Regions from separate parts of the Homo sapiens genome. Here all the other regions are reported to be linked to region 2. Evidence: microRNA targets listed by miRTarBase, many of them from high-throughput screens and not tested one by one. Region 2 holds a microRNA gene; each other region holds the end of a gene's coding sequence.
Evidence for each region. Region 2 holds the annotated microRNA hsa-miR-143-5p (GGUGCAGUGCUGCAUCUCUGGU, at 4,764-4,785, shown strand). A microRNA usually pairs through its seed, bases 2 to 8, with sites in the 3' UTR of a target mRNA and lowers its output. Matches are read on the target gene's strand: a 7mer-m8 pairs with bases 2 to 8, a 7mer-A1 pairs with bases 2 to 7 and ends in A, and an 8mer does both.

Region 1 (7,000 bases), not on the chromosome of region 2:
CAACGACGCAGGTGCTGAGAAGGAAGGGGTGGCAGGGATGTGGACCCGAGACGGTGGGAGCAGGAATGGGAGGGGACTAGGCTACTAGGGCCCCACTAGAGAAAGGAGAGGGAAAGGGCTTCTCACTTTCCCTTCCCAGGTCACAGAGTGGCCGAGAGGCAGGGAAAATAGAAGGCAGGCCCAAGGCCTCCAGCTCCACGTCCACCTCTAACATGGTCCCCTCCACAGGATTCCACCTCAACAACCAGCTCTATGACATCATTACCATGCGGTACGCAGACAAACACATGAACATCGACTTTGACAGTTTCATCTGCTGCTTCGTTAGGCTGGAGGGCATGTTCAGTAAGTGGGAGAGGGGGGCTGCCCTCTGCTCTCTTGCAGGGGCAGTTGTGGCAACAGGCATCTCACCTGATAATCTCCAGTCTGCTCCATCCAGGCTGAACAAGGGCCAATGACCTCTTTAGGCCCAGAATGGGATGGCAAAGGGAGGGTTACTGGTGATTCTCTGCCTGCACATCTTTGTGCTGATGAGGGACAGCACTGGGCACATGGTCCTCTGAGGGGAAGTTACAGTAGTAGAGGCGGAGTGCGCCTGTAACTGGCCTCTGGCCTGTGCATTCTTTCACAGGAGCTTTTCATGCATTTGACAAGGATGGAGATGGTATCATCAAGCTCAACGTTCTGGAGGTAAAGCATAGGCACAGCACATTCCCCCTACACATTAAAACTCAAGGTGGAGGGGTCAACGGGGCGGACTGGACCCAGGGTGTGCTCCTCATTTCCACACAGTGGTGGAGGGAAGGGATAGGAACAGAACATGGAGGGAGGCTCAGCAGGCTCCCAGGACACATGCACTTGAGGCCCAAAAGGACCTCTGCTCCCCCAGTCACTTGATGCGGGAAAACATGCACCTTCTTAGGGAAGATCTAGGAGAAAGGAAACAGTAAGCCACTGCTTCTTGGAAAATCTTCTGGGGGTCTGACCTGCTGGGACTGTTCCCTTTCCTCTTGCCCCGTAAGATTCCTAGGGCGGGGGGGGGGGGGGTCACTCTTTTCTGATCTACATTCTGATCTTGGGACTTCTTTCAGTGGCTGCAGCTCACCATGTATGCCTGAACCAGGCTGGCCTCATCCAAAGCCATGCAGGATCACTCAGGATTTCAGTTTCACCCTCTATTTCCAAAGCCATTTACCTCAAAGGACCCAGCAGCTACACCCCTACAGGCTTCCAGGCACCTCATCAGTCATGCTCCTCCTCCATTTTACCCCCTACCCATCCTTGATCGGTCATGCCTAGCCTGACCCTTTAGTAAAGCAATGAGGTAGGAAGAACAAACCCTTGTCCCTTTGCCATGTGGAGGAAAGTGCCTGCCTCTGGTCCGAGCCGCCTCGGTTCTGAAGCGAGTGCTCCTGCTTACCTTGCTCTAGGCTGTCTGCAGAAGCACCTGCCGGTGGCACTCAGCACCTCCTTGTGCTAGAGCCCTCCATCACCTTCACGCTGTCCCACCATGGGCCAGGAACCAAACCAGCACTGGGTTCTACTGCTGTGGGGTAAACTAACTCAGTGGAATAGGGCTGGTTACTTTGGGCTGTCCAACTCATAAGTTTGGCTGCATTTTGAAAAAAGCTGATCTAAATAAAGGCATGTGTATGGCTGGTCCCCTTGTGTTTTGTTGTCTCACATTTAGATATCAGCCATGCATGACTGAATGGCTTCCAATCATATACTCACCTATCACCTACAAGAGAACAATGAAAAACACACACAAAAACAAAATCTTGAATTTTGTAATCATGCCTATTGCTATTTCTTGAGCATAAGAATGGCTCAGATACTTTCCAAGACATAAAAGGAAGGCAGAGGAATAGTTGTTGCTGTAAAAGACATCAAGAATAAATGGGTCATGTACAACGGGAGGGGCCGGTTACCTGAATAATGGAGTGGAGATTGAGCTATCCTAGCTCCTCTGCTCACTAACTGACCTGTCGCATGACCGTGGACAAAACCCTGAACGCAGCTGTTTGTTTGCTAAACTTCTCTGGACCATGGCCTGCGGCATATCTATAGGCATCCTGTGTTTTCCACCCAGTTTCCTTCTTCCTCGCTAAGCCAACGTGGAAAGGGCTGGCCGTGAATATGCAGACAAGGTAACGAAAGTAAACCGTCAATTAGTAAAAGTACTTTATTTTCCTCTTGTATTTGCTTTATATCTTGCTTTACAAAGTTACGAAGTTCACAGCTTTATACCAAAATGTAAGAAGGCTATTTGCTTATAAACATTTTTGCAGTCAGGTGTCATCTGATTTCATTCTTCTAATCCATATTCAATATTAAAAAAATCAGAAACCAAGGGTGCTGGAGCAGCTCTAGGGCATATATTTCTCTTAAATAGGAGAAAGATTTTCAACAGCTTTTCCTCCTTGACCCCCTCCTTTCCCAATTTATTTGGGTCACTACCTTGAATTTAGAGTGAATCTGGGAAATGTAGTCACCAGGTAACCCAGCAGGGCCATATACTTGGGCTTGGAGGTGAGGTTAGAGGTTACTGTCTAATACAGTAGGTCTGGTTTCTATGAGGAGCTCATATCCACTTGCATAAGGAAACCTAGTCTATCCCAAATCACCTCCACCACAACTTCTATTCCTGTCTATTAGACCACTTCTCTTAAACCCGAGGAACCTGATGATTTGGGGGCAGGGATAAAACCATTATTTTATAAATGTGGCAGGTATGGCCTTCGTAATTCTAGAAGCTCCCGTTTAGGTAACAGAAACAAAATTTAGATGTAAGCATAAACTGCAGTTATTTGAGCAAACCAGAGCATATGTGCTGTTCAAATCCCACTTCACAATATACTTCAATCTCACCTCCAATGAATTCTCTTCCATAAAATAAACCATTCCACTAAGTATATACCTACTCCCACCAAATCATCCACATGCCTCATCACTAAAGTTGTCCCTTGTATAATCTACCAGCAAAAAGACAAAATAAAACCTGTGTTAAGCAAATAATCACTTAAACAGTAATAATATTGCCTCTAAATTAAAGGTAAGTCAGGAGCTGAACACTCAACTGTTAACTCTTCTGGGGAAGAAGAAAATTTTTCCCACAAAAGCAGGAGTGCAGTAGTAAGTAATGACTTTCTCTCAGATTCAAGTAACATCAGGTCAAGATAACCTTTGCTGTTAGAGTTTTGTTTGCATGGTGTGGAACTGCTTTATAAACTGAGTAGAGACGTATGCCAAAATTATTTTTAACCTAATTAAAAACTTTCACAGAAAACTTGAAGTGACTGATACTTTATCACAACGAACTGCCATTTAAACACTAGCATAGGTACACAAAAAGATTTATACTATGGTTTTCTTGGCTTTAAGCCATTAGAATTAGACAAAAGCAACCGAGAGTAACATTCTAAAAGTGGCTTCAACTACTTTAAAGACATGAGTCAGTTTTTGTCAGGTCATTTAATGGTTTCTTTCCTTCACAAAGCCACTAAATGCCAGAGTCAACACAGATCCCTGAGCCATAGCTCTTCTCTGAGGGGAAACAGGGTTATAATCAGTCACAACATTGTGGAAGACATTAAAAAAAGAAGGCAAAGTTCTGTATAATTTTCAAGACTCTTGTAAGTAGTAACACACAGCCATAAGCAGCCAAAATGCTTATGGTCCCTTTATTTCTTAATAGAGGGCTAGAACCGTTCATTTGGGGTAACACACTAATCTGGTGTTAAAAGAATTTCATGTGTTCTTGAAACAAAGGCATACTGCCACTGCTTCAAAAAAAGCCTTTGTGAAATGAAGAAAAATATGACAAACACAGGTTCCCACACGTACACATACATACAAAGGAACCTGCACACTTGCACACACACAGGCAGGTATAGGCACACAGTTCCACCAAAGCGAAGTCCAAATCAGAGTTCTTACCGATTCTACCACTCTGTAATACTCTCAGAAGTTCCCACAACTGCCCAACACCTCACCTACCCGTTTCCTGCTGCACAAAGTCTCCTTCACTCTCATCTTTTCGATACATCGTCAGGCAGGGCAGAAGGGCACTACGCCGCAGAGCATTCGAGGCTCTCAGCACACTGCCAGCCAGCGTGAAAATGCGGCTTCACTACAGCCCAGAGAAAAGGGCCAGGTTTAGTCATCGATCCAGATGCATTTTCCCGGGAAATGACCATTCCCAAACCCACAGAACAGTTTGGCTTCTCTGGATATCCTTATAGGAAATAGGGGTGAGAGGTGGGAAAAGCTTCTCAATCTCATACAGAAACAGCACAAATATTTAATACACCTTTTGCAACAAGATCTTCTCTGTTCTCCATTAAGCATCATGTAAATCTCACTAGTGTGGTTAACAAAATGGCTTTCCCCAAGGACAGAAGTCAAGAGCTTGTGGGGCCATATATTATCTAGTACTAGGCCATTCATTATCTCCTAGATTAACTCTTTTTTTTTTTTTTTTGAGGTGGAGTTTCACTCTTGTCGCCCAGGCTGGAGTGCAGTAGTATGATCTTGGCTCACTGCAACTTCTACCTCCAGGGTTCAAGTGATTCTCCTGTCTCAGCCTCCTGAGTAGCTGAGACTACAGGCACATACCACCACACCCAGCTAATTTTTGTATTTTTAATAGAGACGGGGTTTCACTATGTTGGCCAGGCTGGTCTCAAATGCCTGACCTTGAGTGATCCACCCGCCTCGGCCTCCCAAAGAGCTGGGATTACAGGTGTGAGCCACCAGGCCCGGCCTCCTAGATTAATTCTTGACATTTTTTGGATCAAGTAAGAACCACTGGAGCCTTTCCTGGAAAAAAGAACACATACTCAGTCTCACACACAATTTCTGGGGGCTCACAGACCCTCTTGAAGCCTATCCATAAACCCCCTGGTGAAGTCCCCCTGCCCGATAGCCTGAGGGAAGACATGTGAGTGGATATATGTGCACTAACAGGGGCGAAGACAGACCTGGATGGTCTGCAATCCCAGAGAGCATGAGGCACCATGTCCCAAAGCTTGGTATGTGGCCCTGGGCTCCTCCCCCAATTTTATCTCTCTGAAGAAGCTGAGTTTTTTTTTTTTTTTTTGAGACGGAGTCTCACTCTGTCACCAGGCTGGAGTGCAGTGGCACGATCTCAGCTTACTGCAATCTCTGCCTCCCGGGTTCAAGCGATTCTCCTGCCTCAGCCTCCTGAGCAGCTGGGATTACAGGCGCCCACCACGCCCGGCTTTTTGTATTTTTAGTAGAGACGGGGTTTTGCCATGTTGGCCAGGCTGGTCTGCAACTCCTAGCCTCAGGTGATCTGCCTGCCTCAGCCTCCCAAAGTGCTGGGATTACAGGCGTGAGCCACCACGCCCGGCCACGTTCTGAGTTTTGAGGATCCAGAAACAAAAGGCTGGAAAGCGACACTTCTACAGGTTTACTGATGAGTCCGGAGAAAATCCAAAAACAAAGCCCCACTGAGGGTTTGTGAATTTGGCTGTTCTCAGTGGCCAGGCAGAGTCTCTGCTCCACTCTTCTTTCCCAGCTAGCAGGGAAGTGAAGGCAAAGAACTGTCTCAGAAACAAGTCTCTAGGAAGTCTGCTTGAGGTCCTGAAAACTGTATTCAGATGCTTTATTCTAACCCCCTCTCCCCCACCATCTTAGTTGCTGCAGGGGGGTGGAAAACACCCCGTGAGCCCAGAGGAATATTCGATGGCTGCCATCGGTCTAGGCACGGCCATACAGTGGGAGAGATGGAGGCTGGCAACTGAACAAACCAAAAGGGTTCAAACCAACATTAGGCTTGCAGGGTCAGACACTAGAAAGGAAGATAAAGGTACACCTCCAGTTCAACAGCCTGACAGGATCTGTAACAGGTAGTGCCCAGGTTCAACAGCAGATGTAAAGGTAGACGTTAGGTCTACGCACTGCCTCACACTGAGCTTTCTATCCACATTTACAGAGATTTACTAGAAGTGGTGTCTGTAAGGACTTGTCACTATGTGATTTGCTTCCTGAATTCCTAAAAGATAGTCAGCAGAGCAGCCACTGTTTGTCAAAAATCTACTGTGTCCTTTAGCACTTAAAGCCAGCTCTATCTATAAAGCAAGAAAACAGTGACACACACTGCACATAATTGTTAAGAAAGAAAACTATTTGCTTCCAGTTTAAATACCCAGCTATTACAAATGGAGAAATTAAAACTGATCCTCAAAGTCTGGCACTTAAACAAACTTGTACTTAAAAGCCTGACTATAGGTTTAAACCATCATAAGAACATAAATTAAAAATTGCAAACTGAAATCAATAAAATATACATATGATTAGGGTCAAACTGGGTAACCAATTAGGATCTGTATCTTCAATAAACATCTGGAGAACGCAAATAGCATATATCACTATATGCCATGCTGTCCCAGAGAAGTATGGTTCCTTAACATTTGTCTAAATCTATTTAAAACCTCCAGCAAGAACTTAAAAGTGTAATTTATCATCCCATAGAGCTGCCCAGACTTATGCTAGGGGTATGCCTGGCTAGTAACCACTTTCTCCTTCCTTACTTCACCAAGAAAGGGAAGAGAGTGGCCTGTGTGGGGGGCCAATGTGAAAATAGTTCAACTAATGACTTCCCAACGTGGGAGGCAAAAAACTTCATGAATCAATTTTGCTGTCATCTTCAGCATGTCGTTCAATATGTCCTGCAGCATCCTAGGAATGAAGGGAAAAGGGCCCATGAGAGAGAAGTCGATAGTAAGACAGGAGAAAGTCAAAGCCAAGGAAAGCCATGTGGGTCCATTCCACCTAGGATCCAGACAGGAAAGGCAGTTAGGAGCCAGCACTTTGCTAACTTACGTGAAACCATGTACTTAAAGGTGAGCTGTTGTCTCAGCACAAGAGCACTGTAATAAATCTCCAGGTTCAGTTACTGGATTTGAAACATCTGAAAACATTCTCTTTAGGCCCTTTCTCAAAAATGACCTAATTCTTCATTTGCAACTTCATT
Region 2 (7,289 bases):
AAACAGCCCATCCACCCAGGAGCTGTCCCCCACACTGCCGGGAGCCGGCACCCAGAGCCGCCAGGTAAAACTGAGGCCACCTGGTTCAACATCACCTTTCACAGAAGGGGAAGCAGCCACAGAAAGAAGGGCCTCGTTAAGAAGTGGAACCTGGGACCCCCAAGCGGTGTCTCTCATCCTGACTGGGGATCCAGAGTAGGAGGGAGCCTTTGGTGGGGTAAGTGGAATGGGGCGGGGTGGGGGGTGGCCATAGACCCCTCTTCTCAGTAAGGCCCTCATGTGAAGGAGGCAGGGGTTGGGACAAGTGCTAAGTATGCAAGACTCAAGGGAAGAGCTGCTGGAGCCAGGAGAAGCACCTCCCTCCCGGCCCCTCTGCCCCTCCTCATAGCCCAGCTGCACTGACTCCTCCTCCAGGAAGCCTTCTCAGCTTCCCCAGGGGTGGGAACCTTTTTGTCCTCCAGGTGTGCTTGGCTGTCCTTTCTTGGGCTCTCTCTCTCTCTCTCTCCTCATCCCACTTGAGTCTGCCCCCTATTCACCTTGTGAGGGGAATTTTCCTTCTACTCAATCTGACCGAGGTCCTCCAGGTCAAGGACAGCGAGGCTCTCAGTCCCACTTCCCCTTGGCACATAGAAGAGGCAGTGCGCTGAAGGGACAGGTGAAATGATTAGACCCTGCCCCCAAACCAAGGCCTGGCCAATTGGACAGGGCATGAGACATTCAGCGTAGAGGTTAAAACGAGGGCCCTGGGTTAGGAACCCCAGCTCAGTTCTCAGCTCTGTACCCTTGGAAAATTCCCTTCCCATGGAGCTTTGTGGATGCACAAGGACTTGCACAAAGAAAACATTCAATATCCAGGACTATAAAATTCCACAAATGATTGTGCTTATTACATTCATTATCACGATGATTATTCCAGACACAAAGGAACAGAACGAGGCACCAACAGCAAGGGGCAAGCAGATTCAAGGGCCACAGAGGAGATGGAGGCAAACACCTTCCCCTGGTCAGAGGCTGTGCCTCAGCCCTTCTCCCTGCATCAGTTTCTCCTTCAGAAGCATGGGACTACCTCCCATCTAGTTCTCGTTTCTAAACCTAGGGGAGATGCTATCTTTGCTGCAATAATCTTAGCCTACATCTTGGAATGGAAATGGCCTTGGTGGAAATGGTCTTCAACTCCTCTGGTCCAAGCTCAGGCCCTGTGACCCTGGAACAATCCCCTTCCTGGTCCTCCATGTAGGAGCAATAACATTCCCTTGCCAGCAGCACCAGCCATTCTGATGATTAAATGGTATCGGACTCTGTTTTCCAAACTCAGTCATTCAGATGCCCCCTATTTTATTTCTTCCATGTCTGCAAATGATTATAATATTTTTAAATGTAGGATGAGTCCTTTTTATTACACATAGAAATAGCTACTGTAAATAGCAAACTCTAACACTGTGCCTAATTAGGAAATAAAGGTAACCATAAATACAGTAAAAATGAAACAATGTTATTATGGTTTAACCTGATAGTGTGGCTTGCAAGGCCCTGGGCCTGAAGCCTGGGCAATAAGTGAGAGTTAGAAAGGTGTCAAAGACATGATAGCAGCAAACTGAGGCTTTGTACCCCACGGTAAATAGGACTGAAAGCAAATTCACAGGGAGCAACTGATCCATTCCACAACAGAATGCTCCCTGTCAATTCGCTTTCCATTCTGTTGTGTCCTGTCTCCCAGCAGAGACTACAAACTCCCCAAAACCACTTACCCACCAGCTGCACGTGAGAAGCCAAAGGTAGTTTATGTGAAAGGGCTTTGGAAATAATCACGCACCAAGTGAAGGCAGAGGACACACCTTGTCAGCTTAGTTCTCAGCAGCAAATCATCTCTTTTCCAGGATAACCCTCCCTGATTCTTATTGAAATCTCTTTGCTGACCACACTAAGCTCTTCTCTCTCAGGGGCAGTGGGAGCCGTGGAGAGTGGAATAGACCAGCTGTCTGTGACCTGCGAGGGAGTCCAATGTCGGAATCACTCCCCAGCCAAATGCACGGTTTTAAAAAATCTATTTATTTATTTATGTAGAGACCAGGCTATGAGACTGGCTAATTTTTCGTATTTTTGGATAGAGACAGGATTTCATCGTGTTGCCCAGGCTGGTCTTGAACTCCTGGGCTCAAGCGATCCACCTGCCTCGGCTTCCCAAAGTGCTCAGGATTACAGGCGTGAGCCACTGTGCCCAGCCACCAAATGCAGTTGAAAAGAGTTTCTGCAAGATAATTCCACAGAAGAGGAAAGCAGTTATCTGGCTGGGAATACCTTAGACAGAGGCTGTCCTCTACACAGGCTGTCAGAACTGACCTACTGACCTGCCTGCTGGCATGATAGACCAGAGGGAAACACTCTTTCCACTCTTCCCAGACTGAGTGTAAGAGACAGACTTTTTTTTTTTTTTTTGAGACGGAGTCTCACTCTGTCACCCAGGCTGGAGTGCAATGGCAAGATCTCGGCTCACTGCAACCTCCACCTCCCCGGGTTCAAACCATTCTCCTGCCTCAGCCTCCCAGGTAGCTGGGATTACAGGCTCCCGCCACCACGCCTGGCTAATTTTTGTATTTTTAGTAGAGACAGGGTTTCACCATGTTGGCCGGGCTGGTCTCGAACTCCCAACCTCAGGTGATCCGCCTACCTTGGCCTCCCAAAGGGTTGGGATTACAGGTGTAAGCCACTGCTCCCAGCCTTTTTTTTTTTTTTTATTAGAGACAAGGGCTCCCCATGTTGCCCAGGCTGATCTTGAACTCTAGGCTCAAGCGATCCTCCTGCCTGAGCCTCCCAAAGTGCTAGGATTACAGGCATGAGCACTGCTCCCAGCTCTGTTTTTGTTTTTTTAAGGAGGTATATTTTTTCTGTTCTCTCTCAGCCCTGAAGAAAGGCTACCCATCCCCTTCAGACATTCCTGAAAATATATGTCATCCAACATCAAGGCCACCACAGTGACCACTAAGCAATGCAAGAAGGTCCTCTGGGGTGCCCTGAGATCTTGGCAGGGCAGGAAGAGTGAGAAGGGGCTTTGCCTGCTCACCTGAAAGTTCCCACCCAAGCCGGGCCCAGAAAACAAAATGAATTATCTACATGGTCATCCAATCAGCCACCAAATGGCATTACCTAGGTCCATCATCATGTACCAAGCCACAGGTCAGACCCAGGGCCCCCCAAATTAACAAGACACAGGCACTGTCCTCAGGAAGTGGAGATCTAGCCAGGTCAGACCCACACACAAATAACACTGATACTAGAGATAATGAGATTGGGAATTATGATTCAGCCATTCAACCTGGGCTTATGTGGCATCTACACCACCTGGCCCTGATTTCAGTAGTGAGCACAGTTGACAGGGTCCCTTCCCTTCACAGGTGAGCCATGTAGTCCACAAGTGGAGGTGGTCGTAAGTGAAAACCACATTACCAGCATGGTAAAGGGTTAGAAAGAGGGCACCGGGTGGGCGAGAACATGAAGCAGGGGGTGCTGATGGCTAAAGAAGTAAAGGAGGGGCTGGGCACTGTGGTTCATGCCTATAATCCCAGCACTTTGGGAGACCAAGGCGGGTGGATCACCTGAGGTCAGGAGTTCTAGACCAGCCTGGGCAACGTGGTGAAACCCTGTCTCTACTAAAAATACAAAAATTAGCCAGGCATGGTGGTGCACGCCTGTAGTCCCAGCTACTTGGGAGGCTGGGGCATGAGAATTGCTTTAACCCGGAAGGTGGAGTTTGCAGTGAGCCGAGATCGTGTCACTGCACTCCAGCCTGGGCGACAGAGGGAGACTCTGTCTCAAAAAAAAAAAAAAGTCAAGGAGGGTTTCCCAGAGTGGCCACTTGATTAGAGACCTAGCACAGGAGGAAGAGATGGGCAGGGAGAGTGACGGGGAGCAGCACAGTCCCTGGGAGCCCGAAGTGGGTGGGCACAGGGCTCCCTAGGAGAATGGAAGGACATCTATGAGCTGTAGCCCAAGAGGAAGAGGTCACTGGGGCTAGATGCGGCAGACCCTCGCAGGCTTTGGGAAGGGCTTCAGAATTCAGCCTGAGGGCAATGGGGAGCCCTTTTGGGATATTAAACTTGAGTAAGATATGAGCATATTTGCATCTTGAAAAATCATTATGGGAAGATGGCTGGGAAGAGAGGAGGAGTGGCAGAAGAAAGATAGGTTGGAGACAATTGATTGCTCGATGATATAAAATGTTAAGTACCATGAATGATGCTGTTAGGCTGGAATGCGCCAAGCATAAAGGTGGGGCATGGCATCAAAAGGTAGGTCAACATATTAAATAATTCCATGTATTGAAATATCCAGAAAATATATAGACAGATCTATAGAGATAGAAACTGGTCTGCCCAGGACTAGGGGTTGTCTAAGGATAAGGAGCTTCTTTTTTGGATGGTGAAATAACCTAAAATATATTGTGCCATTGTTTGCACAACTTTGTGAATATATTAAAAACCTGTTAATTGTACTCACTAAATGTCCTCCTTCTAAATTAAGCTGTTCTTGACAAGAAAAGGAAAGAAACAAAGAAAAGAAGAGAAAAAAGGTCAAGGTTTGGTCCTGGGTGCTCAAATGGCAGGCCACAGACAGGAAACACAGTTGTGAGGAATTACAACAGCCTCCCGGCCAGAGCTGGAGAGGTGGAGCCCAGGTCCCCTCTAACACCCCTTCTCCTGGCCAGGTTGGAGTCCCGCCACAGGCCACCAGAGCGGAGCAGCGCAGCGCCCTGTCTCCCAGCCTGAGGTGCAGTGCTGCATCTCTGGTCAGTTGGGAGTCTGAGATGAAGCACTGTAGCTCAGGAAGAGAGAAGTTGTTCTGCAGCCATCAGCCTGGAAGTGGTAAGTGCTGGGGGGTTGTGGGGGGCCATAACAGGAAGGACAGAGTGTTTCCAGACTCCATACTATCAGCCACTTGTGATGCTGGGGAAGTTCCTCTACACAAGTTCCCCTGGTGCCACGATCTGCTTCACGAGTCTGGGCATGTCCTGACTCCTCTGTGTACCCCAGTGTGTCCATCTTAGCATGAGGCGTTAGCATTTCCCCAGCACCCTGCCTCTGCTTTCTCTTTCTGAGCCCATGGCAGACACAGCTAATCAGTAAAGGCATATATTCTTTTTTTTTTGAGACACAGTCTCACTCCATCACCCAGGCTGGAGTGCAGTGGCATAATCTCAGCTCACTGCAACCTCCTCCTCCCAGGGTCAAGCAATTCTCGTGCCTCAGCCTCCCAAGTAGCTGAGATTACAGGTGTGCGCCACCACACCTGGCTAATTTTTGTATTTTTAGTAGAGATGGGGTTTCACTATGTTGGCCAGGCTGGTCTCAAACTCCTGACTTCAGGTGATCTGCCCGCCTCGGCCTCCCAAAGTGCTGGGATTACAGGCATGAGCCTCCACGCCCCGCCAGGCATCCATTCTTGAAGTGCTCAGATGCAGCTTCAGAATCCTCAACAATGAGCCCTGGAAAGCCACTAGTACTGATTCACAGCTGAAACTCATTCATCATTTGTGGATCAAACAATTCCTAAAAACCCTTTCAGCCCTGAAGATAAAAATTCTGGCCTTTGAGTCAGGGTCTTCACTCTGTACTTCTAACCTTGGCTCCGGGGTATTGCCGAAACCAGTCCAGGCACGTCACAAATGTCTGACTTCTCCCAGAGGCTTCAGAAGCACAATGAGCAGCAGAGGAGAGCCATGGAGCCAAGCACAGTCTCATTTAACCTCCCCAAAAGCTTGGGAAGTGGGTGGTGTTATAGCCCCATTTTACAGATGAGAAAAACTGAGGCTTATTTAAGCAGCTCACCTAAAGTCACATATTGATTGTGCTGAGCTGAGATTGTACCCTAATCTGCCTTCAAATCCATGTTTTTACCCATTGCATGTGATTATGGAACCTGGGACCGAGGAGCAGGAGGAGAACATTCTAAATTCTGCTCCCATCTTGTCTTTACATCTCAGGTCACTTTTAGCAAAGACAGACCCGGACACTTGCCATTAATACTACAGGCTTCCTTCCTCCTACCCCCTTCCCCCAATCTTATTCATCTCACCTCTCCAGTAGGTCGTGGACTCATGCATTTTATAATTAAAGAAGGCCAAGGCTCAGGGGTTAAGTGACTTACTGGAGGTTATCAGAGAGGAAGTTGCCAAACCCAGGCTAGGAACTGAATGGTTGGTTTAAATCCACCCCTCTGGCAGGAGACTGGGGAATACACATGAGCCGTGCAGACAGCAGAGGGCAGTCCTGGGGGTGGGGGCGCCAGAGGGTTTCCGGTACTTTTCAGGGCAATTGAAGTTCCGGTCACTACTCCCCCCCAGAGCAATAAGCCACATCCGGCGACGTGTGGCACCCCACCCTGGCTGCTACAGATGGGGCTGGATGCAGAAGAGAACTCCAGCTGGTCCTTAGGGACACGGCGGCCTTGGCGCTGAAGGCCACTCGCTCCCACCTTGTCCTCACGGTCCAGTTTTCCCAGGAATCCCTTAGATGCTAAGATGGGGATTCCTGGAAATACTGTTCTTGAGGTCATGGTTTCACAGCTGGATTTGCCTCCTTCCCACCCCACAGTTGCCCCCCAATGGGGCCTCGGCTGGCTCACAGGATGAGGGTTCAAGAAGAAGGCTGTCCCTGGAGGTAAGAGGGCTTATGAACCATGTTCCAAACCTTTGCGTTGCTTTTCTTTCCATCGTGTCTATTTCATAACATCCCTGTGAGGCTGGATGTGGGAACTTCAGCACTGCCGTACTCTTGGGAAATTTGTCCAAGGCCACCCGGCTGAGCAGCGGTTGAACCAGGACACCATCAGGCATGCGTTTCTTGTCTCCACCACACCCTCAACCCACTTCCCAACGCGCCTTGCGACAGGGGCTGCGGTATTGCATCCACATGACTGATAAACTAGTAAACACACATGAATTCATTTTAAAAGTGTATTCAATCAGTTAGGTAAACTAAAAACCTTAAGTCTTCGTTCGATTTGGAATGCAGCCAGAGAACAAATGGAAAATTTTTCAAGGTAGAGAAGATGAAAACTCAGAACGCCCTCTTGTGGCATCTCTACCCACCCTAGGAACACTATGGCTCTTCCCCTACACATGGTGATTGCTAACCTTGCTACAAGACGTTGGACACACACACACACACACACACACACACACACACACTGAGGTTCCTTTTGCCCCCTCACTTTTGAGCCAGTGACTACTGAAACCCTCTCCATTGTTGCACCACCAGCAATGCCCCCATCACTTCCTCTCATTTACTTCCACA
Region 3 (7,289 bases), not on the chromosome of region 2:
CACAGGTTCACAGAGCTAACATTTGATCACGTGGGTTCAGACCCTACTTATCAAGGGACTTCTCATCCACGACTGTGGGCAGGTCCTTGGGGACAGGGAAGCTTTCTCCTTCTGCTTTTTGATCCGTTATCTTTTCTTCAGCTTCTGCTGTTATTTATAGGTTCGCTTCAATATCTGAGATATTTTTTTTTTTTTTTTTTTTTTTGAGACAAGAGTCTCACTCTGTCACCCAGGCTGGAGTTCAGTGGCGTGATCCCGGCTCATTGCAACCTCTGCCTCTGGCTTCAAGCAATTCTCTGCCTCAGTCTCCTGAGTAGCTGGGATTACAGGCGCCCACTGCCACGCCTGGCTAATTTTTTTTGTATCTTTAGGAGAGATGGGGTTTCACCATGTTGGCCAGGCTGGTCTTGAACTCCTGACATCGTGGTCCATCCACCTCGGCTTCCCAAAGTGCTGGGATTACAGGTGTGAGCCACCACACCTGGAGGAGATATTCTTTAATCTAGAAAGCAAATACTAGTTTATATGAAGTACTTAGCAAAAAAAAAAAAAAAAGCTAATTTTCTACAAATGTATATTTTCTGTATACTTGTTGATATTTTACTGTGCTTTTATTTTCAGTCTTAGAAACAGGCAGCCAATATATAGAGCAACCTTCCTCAAACTTTTAATGTTAATCTCATGACCAAAGTAGAGAATCTCCCCCCACCAGCCCTCCTCTTCCAATCGAACTTACACACAAAGAGCTTTGCCTAAAGCAGGAAGTTATTTGCTCTACAGAGTTACGGGTAAAATCTTTATAAGGGTCTTTCGAGTTGTTTTATCCCAGTTATTTTTTTTTTTTTAGACAGGGTATCACTCTGTCATCCAGGCTGGAGTGCAGTGGTGCGATCATGGCTCACTGCAACCTCCGCCTTCCAGGCTCAAGTGATCCTCCCACCTCAGGCTCCAGAGTAGCTAGGACAACAGTTGCATGCCACCACACCCAGCTAATTTTTGTATTTTCTGTATAGACAGGGTTTCACTATGTTGCCCAGGCTGGTCTCGAACTCCTGAGCTCAAGTGATCTGCCCACTTCGGCCTCTCAAAGTGCTGAGATTACCAGGTATGAGCCACCACACCCAACTCCAGTGATTTTTAAAAATTATTAAATGGATAAACAATTTCCTGGGAAGAAAAGAGCTACCCTTTCTCTACTTTGAAGAAAAGATAAATTCATCGAGTCTGGGCTTTCTGTTTGAAGTTGAGGTTGTTCGAAGTCAGCAGTGGGGACAAAATTCCAGACAGTGGCTGCTCCTGTCTGGTCTCAGCCAGAGCCCCTTCTTAGTTCCTCAGGCCCTGCTCCTGAGACTCCTCCTAGACTCCCTGCAGCCCTCAGGCCTGGTCTCCTCATCCAATCAATCACCAAGTTCTGCTGACTCGACTTTTTCTTTTCTTTCTGGTTGGCCAGCCCTTCCATCTGTAGGACACGTGATGACTGTTTCGACTGTTTCTCCAGGACTTGTTCTCTAAAGGGAGTGACCAGTATTCTGAAGATATTTGTGGAAATGTCCCCATACAGGAGACCTGCAGTTTTGGCCGTTTGTCTGCCTACTCTTTGGTTTGCTATGTGGCCCTGAGAAAGTAATACATTAATACATTAATACAGAGATGCTCTCTGTATTAGTTTGCTGTTACTTCATAATAATCTACCTCCAAACTCAGTGACTAATGTAACAGTTAATTATTTAGCACATGTCTGAGGGGTGGCTGAATATGACTGACCTAAGCTAGACCAGGCTAGGGGACTCTGTGGACTTTCTCGCGCATCGGCAGGTGGGCTGGGGAGCTCGGGCTGTGCTCAGCTGGGGCAGCTCTGCTCCAGGTTTCCTGTCCTCCTTCAATGGCGGCCCACCCCAGCCAGTTCTCAGGGTGATGCTGACTCTGCTTCTGTTCAGCTGTTGCCTCTTGGTGAAGTCACCATCGCTTGCCTGGAATGCCACACCCAATCCCCCACTCCTCCGAAAAGCTGGTCTCCCTGCATCTCTCCCAGTGTATCCCCTCAAAAGCAGACAATGTGACCTTTTAAAAAATACAAACTTCGGTCGGGGGCGGTGGCTCACGCCTGTAATCCCAGCACTTTGGGAGGCCGAGGCAGGCGGATCATCTGGGGTCAGGAGTTCAAGAGCAGCCTGGCCAACATGGCGAAATCCTGTGTCTACTAAAAAATATAAAACTTAGCTGGGCATGGTGGCGTGCGCCTGTAGTCCCAGCTACTCAGGAGGCTGAGGCAGGAGAATTGCTTGAACCCGGGAGGCAGAGGTTGTAGTGAGCTGAGATTATGCCACTGCACTCCAGCCTGGGCAACAGAGCGAGACTCTGTCTCAAAAAAACAAAACAAAACAAAACAAAAACCTCATCTTGCCTAAAAACTCCCGAGTTGCTCACCATCCTTAGGCTGAGGCTCCAAGGCCGTCCACGATGTGGAAAGAGCCCTCTTCCTTGGCTGCCACCATCCCAGACTCCCTTTAGTTCTTTGCATGGAACTACCCTCTCCCCCAATTAAGGGCTTTGCATGTGCTGTTCCTCCTGCCTAGAGAGCTCCTCTCCCCACCTTCACACAGCCAATCCTCATCATTAATTTGCACGTGTAAATATCCCCTGGGGAGCCCTTCCCTGGCCCGTCCCATCGGCTCTGGCAGCACTCATATTTCCCTCTTTGTAACATTCATAAGACTTGTCATTTTCTTCTCAGATTTCCCTGCTAGACACAGGCTTTATGAAGGTACGTCTGTCTTGTTCACTGGTTGCTCCCTGGCACCTGGCACCTGGCACTAGGTGGCCTTAGTCAATACTGAGTGAATAAATGAATGAGTGAAAGGGGTTTAGGGGAAAGGCCCTGACTCTGTACGTGATCTGCAGATGTTCAGGCTCTTTGTTTTAACACCTGAAGATTTGAGGGTTGGACTAGGTGAGCTCTGATGTTTGTCATCTTTGTAGGCTTCACCCTCTGCCTGTCCCTTTTGCTCCTGGATGATGGTGGGTTGTATGGTGGGGCTTGAGATTAACGGGAGAGGCTGTGGATGAAGGGAGTTAAAGGTCACTGCTACTTAGTTAGCAGCAGGACGGAGTATACCTAAAGCAATCTAGCCAATTCTTTCAGTTCCAAAATCCAGATTCCAACAGCCATCAGAACAACACAGCCCTGTACTTGGCCGTGCAAGATCTCCCAGCTATTATGTCATGACAGCCAGCCCAGCCCAGAGCTGTCTCTGAAAGTCTAGGATATAGCCTTGCTCGGCCAATGAGTTCTGCCTGGGAAGTTAACTAATGATAGTAGTTCTCATTTGCTCAATATTAGTGCTGCAAAGTGATCTCCAGACCCCAGCCCGGATCCTATCTTCAAAGCAGGCACAAGTTCTAGAGAGTTCTGTGAGGCTGGCCATGATGGATGTTGGAGTTGCCCACATTCCCCTCAGTTGGTGCATAGTCAAGGAGGTGGAATACTTCCCTAGAGAAACACCAGGGGTCACCCCCATGGGAATGCCACTTTATTCGAAGCTCTAGCATCAATATTGGGTCATCTCAGTTGGGGAGTACCCAGTGCCAGGCTCTGCCTGCCAGATATACACCTGAAAGGTGGAGGACCAAGGCCTGTTTGTGGCGTTTCCTGCCACAGAATTCGGATTTGTATCTTTCTGCAGATTCCAAAGGCATAGTTAATTTTACAAAATTAAGTCTGCATTAGCAAGGCTTTGGGCATGTTCAAACCCATTCATGCAGTTTAATGAACACAAAAGCAACCTGCTGTTACAGCCTGCAGCCCACGTTAAGTTTGGGTGGACTGCCTCATTGCGTAAAACCTGGGGGAGTGGGAGAAGTCTCCTCTGGAGCTGTTATCTTGCCGGCAATTTGATGCCTTCAGCACGGAGGTTCAAATCTGGACTTCGGTTCCAAGTAGCAGTTGCTTAAATTAAGTATAAATCAGCAGTGCCGTGCGTTAGTAGCGTGGTTGGATGCATTCACTGCTGAGTGACCACGAACTCCACTGCACTGATGCAAGGTGGAAAACCTGAGCCAGAGCCACACACAGGGCTGGGCTGGGCGGCTCTGCCCCGTGACAGTCAGCTGAAGGGAGTGATTATACTTGCCACATCACCTCCGTTCACTGTCCACCGAACAGCTCTCCCCCAATTAGGGCTTTGCATATGCTCTAACACTGCAGCTCCCAGGCAGGAACTGGTTAGAGGGTAAGAGATCTGGGACTTGCTAAGAGCTTCATTATTTTCACAGATGCTCAGGACTTTATCCTGAAATTGGCAGGGGGTGGTGGTTCATGCCTGTAATACCAGCACTTTGGGGGGCCGAGGAGTTCAAGACCAGCCTGGCCAACATAGTGAAACCCCGTCTCTATTAAAAATACAAAAAATTAGCTGGGCGTGGTGGCAGGCCCCTGTAATCCCAGCTACTCGGGAGGCTGAGGCAGGAGAATGGCTTGAACCCAGGAGGTGGAGGTTGCAGTGAGCCAAGATCGCACCGCTGCACTCCAGCCTGGGTGACAGAGCGAGACTCCATCTCAAAAAAAAAGACTTTATCCTGAAATCAAAAGTTGTACTGCCAAATAGAATGGCTACACGTTACATCTATTTGAACGCATCATTGCAGCAAATCTATGCTCTCTAAAAGCGACTGGAAGACATGAGTTCTCATATGAGGGTGAGAAGAACACGGGCTCAGACAGTGCGTACTCACTCCCATGACCGTCGGAGTTAAAATGAGGGGGTGACAGTGCTGCAGCTATTCCAGGACCGGTGCTATTTATAGGAGCCTGTTCCAAACCTTAACCCACAGATACCAAATCCACTGAGCACTGTATGCAAAGGGAAACAAGAAACCGCTCTGCCAGGTCTGGTCCCTCGTAAACTCCCCAGATGACAAGCAAGTTATTTAATATGTTCTTTCTATGTTTGGAATGAATCTGTTTCCAAGAATAAAAGCATACAAACAATATCTTTATTACCTGTAATATACTTAAAGAGCAGGGGTCCCCAGTTGGTTAAACATTGAAAACAGTGGGAGAGCTTCAGAATAGAGAAAAATGACTGTGCCTCACCCCTCACTTACTGAGTCAGAATCTGCAGAGAGGGAAGTGCTGAGAGATGTCTTTTTAAAAAGCTCTCCAACTCTCCAGGTGCTTCTGTCCACCAGCCAGATTTGGGCACCGGTGCTGCCCAGCATGCCCCAGGCTTCAGGGTATGGGAGTCGCCCTGGGCTTGGGTCAGGCTGGGGCTCTCTCATTCACCAGGTGTGGGGAGGGGCTTGAGCCTGCATTTCCAGCAAATTCCCAGGTGGGGCTGAGGTTGCTGATCTGCAGTGCTCCATCTCTGGGTGTGTACCTACACACCCGTCACCTTTGTTGTACTGGGCTCAGGTATAAGTTGCAGGGTGCACCGTGTATCCCCGTAGCCCTGCCCTACTCCATGCTGCCCCCAGTCTCAAGTGGTGCTTGAACTTGCCTTCACCAAGGCAGTTCTCGTCTCAGAGTTGAACCCTCCCTGAGGGCCCCCAACAGCCCTCTCCAGGCCTTGTATCAGTAGGAAATGAAAATGCATTAATTGGGAGGGGTTTATCTGGGGTCAAAGGCTCAGGGAGATCATTCTTTTTATTGCCAAGGACCAAGAAACAAAGTGTAGAAATGCTATACACAATGGTCATGAGCTACAAGGTAGGAATGGGGTGCAGGGGAGACGTGGTAACACACAGCACTATTCTGAACGAACTCCAGCTCTCCATTCTAACACTTGAACCAAGGAAAGACAGCAGTCCTTTTTCACTAAGCCTGCAACAGAATGCAAATGTGACTTGGTTTATCAGCTCCCACAGGACAGGCAGCGCAAAAGGCTATTGTAAGCTGGTTTTGGGAGCCCCCATCTCAAACAGAGAGTGGATGCTGAAGGTGGTCCCTGGCCGCCACTGGTGGCTGGTCCCCGGCTTGCTAGGTCCTGGGCATGTCTCGATTCTCAATGATCAGCTTGTCAGTTGAATACAGTTGGCCAATGTGGACCTGAAGGCAAAGAAAGGACACAGGTCAGGAACCGTGGCCCTCTAGCCCCTGGGAAAGGCCAGAAGGAACATTTCCTAACATTTCTAATACAAACGTCGGCCATCCCAGGGCTGCTCCCTTCCGGCAACTGCACTGCGGGGCAAAGCCGGCCACTAGAGCACCATCCAACCCCCGTTTCCCTCACTGTGAGAAGTTACAGAGATCCACACACCCATTCCTCCCCTCTGAAACAGCACAGGAGGCTGCAGCCTGGGACTCGGGGCTGTGCTGAGCTGGGTGACGCCTGCCTGCTGGTGGCAGAGCTGTCAGATGTGTGCCCAGTACCTCCTCTCCTAAGAGGGCTTCCTTCCCTTAGAACTGATTCTCGCATAGGGAAGGGGTTTTAGAACAGTGCAGAAATGGGCGCCGTCTATGCTGGGGTAGGAAAAGCGCTGCATTCAGGGCAATGCAGACACCTGTCCGTGGCCCATCCCGGGTGGGGTCGAGGGCAGTTGTCTGAGTGCCTGCACCTCCTGCCTTCTATCTTTCCTGCCCCCTTCTTTTTAAAGTGTCCTTTTTATTAAGTGTCTTAATGCCCAATGTTTCCACTGTCCCAGGTGGATGCTGGAGCCATCCTCTGGGGCTAGAGCAGGTCTTTCCTCTGCAACAAAGGGTCTTGCCACAGTTTTTCTGTAAAGCATTTCCTGAGTGATACATTTTTAAGAACAAGTGGAATGGGTGAAGGAAGGGCTGATCATTAGCAACTCTATCTGGATTTCAGACCAGTTGGTCACTATCTATGGGTAATTCGGGGTGAGTAACTGCTGTTTAAGCAAACAGAGCAGCCAGGGGTCAACATCCTCATGGTTTTCCTCCCCGATCTTAGTGCTCTATTTCGAAGTGAAGGCCCCGGACAGAAGGCGATCATGTCATTACTACAGCATGTGTTAAAGAGCAGTGCTCTGTCACCAAGGACCGCCGCGCCGTCCATCTGAGGTGTCCTGTTTTCCATGCCATTTGCTCGGTCTTCAGTCTGCCCTTGCACAGAGGTATCTTGAAGGTCCGTGGCATGGATAATAACTAAGTGTTGCGGTGCAAGAGAAAGCGAAGGAAGAGGCGAGAGCAGCACGTCATCTAAGAAGAACGAGAAGTAGACAGTGGAGATATGGGGGATGGGGGGATCTTGCAGGTATTTTTAAATGCAAGTGAATGTCCTAATTAAAAACCAAAAGAGGTAGGTAGGAGTTATGGGAAGGGGGTGTAGAGA

Region 1: miRTarBase lists ZNF106 as a target of hsa-miR-143-5p. Seed matches in the 3' UTR shown: 7mer-m8 at 5,134-5,140, 7mer-m8 at 4,518-4,524 and 7mer-m8 at 3,128-3,134.
Region 3: the mRNA of LYRM4 is a reported target of hsa-miR-143-5p. The part of its 3' UTR that is shown has no 7-base or 8-base seed match.

Annotation. Positions count from the first base shown.
Region 1 is chr15:42,410,656-42,417,655 of GRCh38, forward strand. ZNF106 (zinc finger protein 106) reads right to left here. Exons shown (of 22, transcript NM_001366845.3): 22 at 2,168-6,705. The coding sequence ends at 6,649. It overlaps CAPN3 (calpain 3), which reads left to right. Exons shown (of 24, transcript NM_000070.3): 21 at 1-11; 22 at 229-345; 23 at 632-690; 24 at 1,092-1,662. The coding sequence ends at 1,118. Among named protein-coding and RNA genes, the nearest start is that of CAPN3, 55 kb to the left of the region's middle.
Region 2 is chr5:149,424,181-149,431,469 of GRCh38, forward strand. It overlaps MIR143 (microRNA 143), which reads left to right and starts at 4,738; the gene lies at 4,738-4,843. It overlaps CARMN (cardiac mesoderm enhancer-associated non-coding RNA), which reads left to right. Exons shown (of 5, transcript NR_105060.1): 3 at 1-217; 4 at 4,703-4,859. MIR145 (microRNA 145) reads left to right here and starts at 6,466; the gene lies at 6,466-6,553. RefSeq lists enhancers at 1-1,333, 6,806-7,100.
Region 3 is chr6:5,103,449-5,110,737 of GRCh38, forward strand. LYRM4 (LYR motif containing 4) reads right to left here. Exons shown (of 3, transcript NM_020408.6): 3 at 4,971-6,043. The coding sequence ends at 5,975. The region is part of intron 3 of LYRM4-AS1 (LYRM4 antisense RNA 1); the gene reads left to right. Among named protein-coding and RNA genes, the nearest start is that of PPP1R3G, 22 kb to the left of the region's middle.